Linked DNA regions of Homo sapiens. The protein of the gene in region 2 purifies or fractionates together with the protein of the main gene of each other region. This does not show direct contact. Each region holds a gene or a part of one and is shown on either strand. Other genes may lie near its edges.

What was found.
Region 1: the proteins of ELAPOR1 (region 2) and TAF1A purify together in Homo sapiens (affinity purification with mass spectrometry; one large-scale study listed by BioGRID and IntAct). This does not show direct contact.

Annotation. Positions count from the first base shown.
Region 1 is NC_000001.11:222,579,934-222,583,801, reverse strand, and holds part of TAF1A (TATA box-binding protein-associated factor RNA polymerase I subunit A), read left to right. Parts: intron 1-3,868. UniProt on the Homo sapiens protein: Component of the transcription factor SL1/TIF-IB complex, which is involved in the assembly of the PIC (pre-initiation complex) during RNA polymerase I-dependent transcription.
Region 2 is NC_000001.11:109,201,115-109,204,934, forward strand, and holds part of ELAPOR1 (endosome/lysosome-associated apoptosis and autophagy regulator 1), read left to right. Parts: intron 1-204; coding exon of another isoform or gene 205-240; exon of another isoform or gene 241-424; intron 425-1,798; coding exon of another isoform or gene 1,799-1,829; coding exon 1,830-1,898; 3' UTR 1,899-3,820. UniProt on the Homo sapiens protein: May protect cells from cell death by inducing cytosolic vacuolization and up-regulating the autophagy pathway. May play a role in apoptosis and cell proliferation through its interaction with HSPA5.

The DNA.
Region 1 (3,868 bases), about 110 Mb from region 2:
AGTAGCGCGATCTCGGCTCACTGCAATCTCTTACCTCCTGGGTTCAAGTGATTCCCCTGCCTCAGCCTCCTGAGTAGCTGGGACTACAGGCATGTACCACCACGCCCGGCTAATTTTTTGTATTTTGGTAGAGACGGGGTTTCACCAGGTTGGCCAGGACGGTCTCAATCTCTTGACCTCGTGATCCGCCTGCCTCGGCCTCCCAAAGTGCTGGGATTACAGGTGTGAGCCACCATGCCCAGCCTATTCTATCTTAAAATCATCTCTTGACCCAAACTTCCCCCATAGACTATACTTCATTGTTTTACTCTCTTTCAGCAAAACTTCTTGAAAGAGTTGTTCTCTTTTTCCAACTAGAGTGATCCTTTTTTTTTTCGTTTTATCAAGACGTTTTTTATACGCCATCACCCACTTAAATTGTACAATTCAATGTATTTTCATACATTTACAGAGTTGTGCAACCAACCATTACCACACTCTAAATTTAGAACCTTTTTTTTCTCCCATGAAACCAAAACCCTGTACCCACTTGCAGTCCTTCCCCATTCCTCCTCACAGCTGCCGGACACTGGCAGCCACTAATCTATTACTTTCTTTTTCTTTTTTTGTTTTCTTTTGAAACGGAGTCTTGCTCTGTTGCCCAGGCTGGAGTGCAGTGGCATGATCTCTGCTCACTGCAACCTCCAGCTCCTGTGTTCAAGTGATTCTTGTACCTCAGCCTCTTGGGTGGCTGGGATTGCAGGCATGCACCACCACACCTATCTAGTTTTTTGTATTTTTAGTGGAGACTGGGTTTCACTCTGTTGGCCAGGCAGGTCTTGAACTCCTGGCCTCAAGTGATCTGTCCACCTCGGCCTCCCCAAAGTGCTGGTATTGCAAGCGTGAGCCACTATGGCCAGCCTAATCTATTTTCTATTCTGGACATTTCATATAAGTGGTTTTGTACAATATGTGGCCTTTTGTAAATGATTTCTTTCACTTGGCATAATGTTTTCATGGTTTATCCATGTTGTAGCATGTATAAGTACTTCATTACTTTTATTGCCAAATAATCTGTCATATGGAAATACCATGTTTTATTTGTCCATTTATCAGTTGTTAGACACTTAGGTTGTTTTTGCTTTTCGGTTATTGGAAATAATGCTTCTGCGAACATTTGTGTACAGGTTTTTGTGTGGACGTTTGTTTTAATTTCTCCTGGGTCTACACCTGGGAGTGGAATTGCTGGTCATATGGTAACACTATGTTTAGCCTCTTGAGGAACTGCCAGACTGTTTTCCAAAGTGGCCATACCATTTATATTCTCACCAGCAATATCTGAGGCTTCTAATTTCTCTAATCCTTGCCAATATTTTGTTATTGTCCTGTCTTACTGATAATAGTCATCCTTGTGGTTGTGAAGTGGCATCATCCTGGTTATGATTTGCATTTCTCTAATGACTAATGATTCAGAGTGAGCTTTTTAAAACATATCAGATCATGTCACTCCTCTGCTGAAAACACTGTAATAGCTTTCCATTTCATTCAGTAAAAGCCAAAGTCATAATTGCCTATAAATTCCTATGTGATGTGCTCACTTCCTTTCCTTGTTTGACCTCTCTGACTTCATCTCCTGAAACAGGTGGAGCATTCCGAATTCAAAAATGTGAAAACCAGAATGCTTCAAAGCTTTTTCATTACTGACATGAGATAGTGACACCTTTGCTTTCTAATGGTTCAATGTATACAAATTTTGTTTCATGCACAAAATTTTAAGAATATTATATAAAATTACCTTCAGGCTATATGTATAGGTGTATATGAAACATAAGTGAATTTCATGTTTAGCCTTTGGTCCTATCCCCAGTCTCATTATGTATATACAAATATTTAAAAAGCGGAAACAATTTCAAGTCTGAAACATTTCTGGTCCCAACGATTTCAGATAAGGGATACTCAACCTGTATTATCCTGCTTGTTTTTTCTTTTCCATCCTCACTGGTCTCCTTGTTCTTACTTGAATGGGCCAGGCATATTCCTGACTGATTGCCTTTGCCTTAACCAGTTCTTGGAAAGCTCTTTCTTCAGCTATCACTGCAGCTACCCTCCTTCAAGGCCCCTTTTCATTGAGGCCTACTTTGACTATTTAAAATTGCAATTGCCTTACTCCAACTGCAACCTGCACTTTCTGAATGGCACTCCTGATCTCCTTGTCCTGCTGCATTCTTTTCCTCTAACAGTTGACAATTTAATTATATTTCTTGGTTATTGTTTGTCTCTCTACATAGAATGTAAATTTCACAGGGCAGGGTTAAAACAGTGCCTGGCATATACTGCTAAATTTCTTCAGTAAAAGACAGTTTACCCACAAATAACTTGACATGAGTGTCTCATAGGTTTTACTAACACAGTCACCATTGCATCAATTAGTTATCTTCTAGAGCAAAAAAAATAAAAAAGAGAAGCTGAAAAAAAAGTTTAACCATTCATTGAAAATTTAATTTATGGACTTAAGTTACATACTCCTGTAAAACATTGAACATGTTACAGCCTCTTGTTGTCCAGATTTTGTTTTGTAAAATGAAGGAATTGGATCAGTGGTTTTTGAGCACTTCTTTGGCTCTCTTTGGATCACCTAGGGCTTTCATTCAAAGTATAAATTCCTTTACTCCACCCCTGTCTATTGAGTCAGAGTATCTTTTATTTGTATTTTTTTATTTTTTGAGATGGAGTCTCACTCACTTTGTCACCCAGGCTGGAGTGCAGTGGCACGATCTTGGCTCGCTGCAAGCTCCGCCTCCCGCCACGACGCCTGGCTAATTTTTTGTATTTTTAGTAGAGACGGGGTTTCACCGTGTTAGCCAGGATGGTCTCACTCTCCTGACCTCGTGATCCACCCGCCTCGGCCTCCCAAAATCCTGGGATTACAGGTGTGAGCCACCGCGCCTGGCCCAGAATACCTATTTTTAACTGGTGTCCCATGTAATTACTGTGTACACTGGTGGTGAGAATAGCTATCATAATCTCAAAGTTTTCTTTTTTTTTTTTTTCCTGCTTTTCTTCCCCCCCTGCATTTACCCATCCCTGGTGGTAGGTGATCCAAGACCCAGGTTTTCTTTAAGCTCCCAAATACTACAGTGTGATATTCTACAAATGAAATCTTGATATCTCTGAGTTGGGAAGATGAGGATCCTTATATCAAATGATAATATGTGTATCATATATAACTATAGCAGTGATAGTGTGTGTATCCACATATAACCAATATGTATGTTCATAGAAATAATTGATTTACAGTTCAGTTTAATTTACTTTGAAGTTGGTATTATTGATTACTTTAAATTGAGGTTAGCGAAATAGAGATTTGCTCTCATGAAAAAAGAGCTCCAAGTTCTGCCGCCAAAGTTTTGGTGATCTGAGGATAAAATATTTTTTTATTAAGATTTGTCCATAGCTAATCAAAATTCTTAAATTGGCATTCTAAATATAGAATAAATGTAGTCAATAGTTGTAGAATTTGATGGGCTCTCAGGAAATGTGTAGTTTGTTGCCCTCATTTTGCAGATGATGAAGAAGAGGCTGAGACCAATGAAGAAGCCAATATTATTAGAACCCAAATTTTCTGACTTTAATATTCTTCCTTCCATACCAATTAAACATTTTATATTAAATATGTATCTTAACTGTCTACTTTCTTTAAACTACTAAATTAATAATGATGCTATTATACTATCTGATATTTTAATAGAAATTTGAAAGGTTAAAACTATTCTATCACATAAGGAAGTAGTATTAATTTTACATGGCAAAGTAGAGTAAAATGTTGACGGTAGTGGTCTCTGGAAAAGGAATCACAGGTTATTAATGTTGTAATCAGGAAAACAATATC
Region 2 (3,820 bases):
GCTCCTTCTCTCTCAACATGCACTCCAGTTAGTGAACTGTTTGGGCCTTTTCACTTCCAGAAGGAGTACTGAACCATCTATGTTGTAAGAATCATCCCCTACTCCTTTTTTTATTTTCACTGAAAAGGGAAAAGGTGATCTCTGGGATCAACTTCTGATAGAAGTCAGGCTCTCCTTTGACCAGTGGGGGGTGCTGTCTTCCAGGTGTCTGGGTCCAGTCCTTTGGGAGCTGAATCATAGTTCAGTCTCAGCTGTTCCCCACTGAGCAATTCTGAGCTGGGAGGGCTGGCTTTGTGTGGGTGGGTGAGTATGAAGCTTATAAATGCAATACAGACAATACTGTCACTGGGTGTGGGGCCAGCAGACAGCATACAAGCAGGTCCTCCAGGGCTATAGTCCTCTGCAGCACAACTCTGCCAGTGCCCATACCTGACTACTGCTCTGAACCAGTTCATCCCAATAGGAGTGGGTGGGGAGGGCGGAAAGAGGGAGGAGGGTATTGGGAGGTGGTGAAGAAAGGACCGTGCTTGGGTGTTTAGATTGCTAAGTCTTGTTTCCTTTGTGCTGACCTGCTAGGGAGACTCCCTTGGCCTCCTTAGACTGCGATTTCTTTTTTTTTAAATGAATGGGAGAACAGTTCACCCTGGGACTCTTGAGTCTATCTGGGACTGCTAGAATTCAGCAAAGGTGCAAAGCAGGGGATTTTTAAGATTTTTGGCTCATGCCTGTAATCCCAGCACTTTGGGAGGCCCAGGCTGGAGGATCTCTTGAGGCTGGGAGTTCAAGATCAGCCTAGACAACATAGGAAGACCCCATCTCTACAAAATAAAAAACAATCAGCTGGGTGTTGTGGAGCATGCCAGTAGTCTCAGCTACTTGGGAGGCTGAGGTGGGAGGATCACTTGAGCCCAGGAGTTGGAGGCTGCACTGAACTATGATTGTGCCATTGCACTCCAGCCTGGGCAACAGAGCGAGACCCTGTCTCTAAAAAACATGTATTTATTTATTTATTTATTGAGACGGAGTGTTGCTCTGTCTCCCAGGCTGGAGTGCAGTGGCATGATCTCAGCTCACTGCAACCTCCACCTCCCAGGTTCAAGTGGTTCTCCTGCCTTAGCCTCCCTAGATGCTGGGATTACAGGTGCTTGCCATCACACCTGGCTAATTTTTTTTTTTTGTATTTTTAGTAGAGACAGGGTTTCACCATGTTGGCCAGGCTGGTCTTGAACTCCTGACCTCAGGTGATCTGCCTGCTTTGGCCTCCCAAAGTGCTGGGATCACAGGTGTGAGCCACTGTGCCTGGCCAAAAACATTTTTTTAAAAGAAAAAAATTTTTTTTTTTTTGAGACAGAGTTTCGCTCTTGTTGCCCAGGCTGGAGTGCAGTGGCATGATCTTGGCTTACTGCAACCTCTGTTCCCGGGTTCAAGCGATTCTCCTTCCTCAGCCTCCCAGGTAGTTGCGATTATAGGCGCCTGCCACCATGCCTGGCTAATTTTTGTATTTTCGGTAGAGACAGGGTCTCACCATGTTGGTCAGGCTGGTCTCGAACTCCTAACCTCAGGTGATCCACCTGCCTTGGCCTCCCAAGTGCTGGGATTACAGGCATGAGCCACCACACCCCGCCTAAAAGAAAAAGATTTTTATTGTTCTCCAACTGACCCTGAAGGGAGCAAGCAGAATAGAGGGTATCTCATTTCTGTGTTTCCACAAAGCCACTGAAACAGGAATTTCATAAGGGTTCCTTCTGTCACCTATTTTCCATTTCTCTCCTTTGTCCCCAAACTTGCCCCTGTGCAGCAGCCAGCTCCTGTCACCATCTCTCTTTCAGAGGACTCCTGATGGATTTGACTCAGTGCCGCTGAAGACATCCTCAGGAGGCCTAGACATGGACCTGTGAGAGGCACTGCCTGCCTCACCTGCCTCCTCACCTTGCATAGCACCTTTGCAAGCCTGCGGCGATTTGGGTGCCAGCATCCTGCAACACCCACTGCTGGAAATCTCTTCATTGTGGCCTTATCAGATGTTTGAATTTCAGATCTTTTTTTATAGAGTACCCAAACCCTCCTTTCTGCTTGCCTCAAACCTGCCAAATATACCCACACTTTGTTTGTAAATTATGCCCTTGCTTGTATCTTGTTTCCCAAAATGGCCCATCCGCCAGAGCCATAGCTTCGTCTGCTCATAATTCTTATAGCTTTGGAATGAAAATATTTCTATCTTCTTAAGTATAGAAACTATTTCCTCTGTCCTCTAACTTAAGGGCAGAAACAGCTGGGAGTTTTCCTCGCATGCCCTCAGCTCATGATCTCTTCAGGAGAGAGGCTGGGTGAGGAGGGTGTCGGGGTTCCCTGGTGGATAATCTTCATAGCAGCCTGGATCCATTTCCCCTGGATAACCAGCTCAAAGGGAGTGAAAATGGTAGTCTGAGGGCAAGGGGAGCAAGGCCTGGGTAAGAAAAGCCTTGAAAAGCATAAAAAGAGGCCGGGCGCGGTGGCTCACGCCTGTAATCCCAGCACTTTGGGAGGCCGAGGCGGGCAGATCATGAGGTCGGGAGATTGAGACCATCCTGGCTAACACGGTGAAACCCCGTCTCTACTAAAAATACAAAAAATTAGCCGGGCGTGGTGGCGGGTGCCTGTAGTCCCAGCTACTCGGGAGGCTGAGGCGGGAGAATAGCGTGAACCTGGAAGGCGGAGCTTGCAGTGAGCCGAGATCGCGCCACTGCACTCCATCCAGCCTGGGTGACAGAGTGAGACTCTGCCTCAAAAAAAAAAAAAAAAAAAAAGAAAAGCACAAAGAGAGGCAACAAGGAATGTTTTTGTTTTTGAGACAGGCTCTCACTCTGTCACCTAGGCTGGAGTGCAGTGGCATAATCACTGTTCAGTGCAGCCTCAAGCTCTTGGGCTCAAGCTATCCTCCCATCTCAACCTCTCAAGTAGCTAGGACTACAAGTGTGCACCACCAGGCTCACTAATTTTTATATTTTTTGTAGACACAGGGTTTCACCATGTTGCCCAGGCTGGTCTCCAACTCCTGGGCTCAAGTGATCTGTCCGCCTCAGCCTCCCAAACTGCTGGGATTACAGGCATAAGCCACTGCACTCAGCCTTTTATTTGTTTTTTAAACCACGTAGCTCATTGCCTTCTCTTAAGTAAATGATAGATATTCTCACTGAAGCCAAAGGAATAAGTTCATCAAGAAAATGCCCAAAGCCCTGGTGGATACATCCTCCCTATCTTTTTTTTAAACCTTCCACTATCACTCTATGACACTGAAAAGAACCAGGTAAGCCCCAAACCCAGATGTTCCAGCCTTATCCTCTGTTGGGTTTACCCACAGACATAGCAAACCCTGTCAGTGAGGAAAATTCCCCATCCTTGAGTGCCCCCGTCCTAGAAGTTTGGGCCATATTATGGAACAGGGGTCTCTTATTTGAAAAGAGCACAAGGAGGCCAAGATTTTAATGGGGCACTTTAGGGGATACAGCCCACAATGGCATGGGCCTGAGGTGGCCGTGATGTCTGCTTCTAAGCTTAACGCATCTGCTCAGGCACAGAATAAACGTCTAGGCTGGCCAAAAAAGGAACTGAATCCCAGGCCCATACGCCAGCACCAGAATCAAACCAGTCTTCAAGGAAGGAAGGCTAGGAGAGTTTAACAAGATTTTCACTGGGCCCAGCATGGTGGCTCACACCTGTAATCCCAAGGCAGAATGGTGGCTTGAGCTCAGGAGTTCAAGACCAGCCTGGGCAACACAGTGAGACCCTGTCTCTAAAAAATTTAAAAATAAACAAGGTGTTCACCAAGCTGGGATACTTC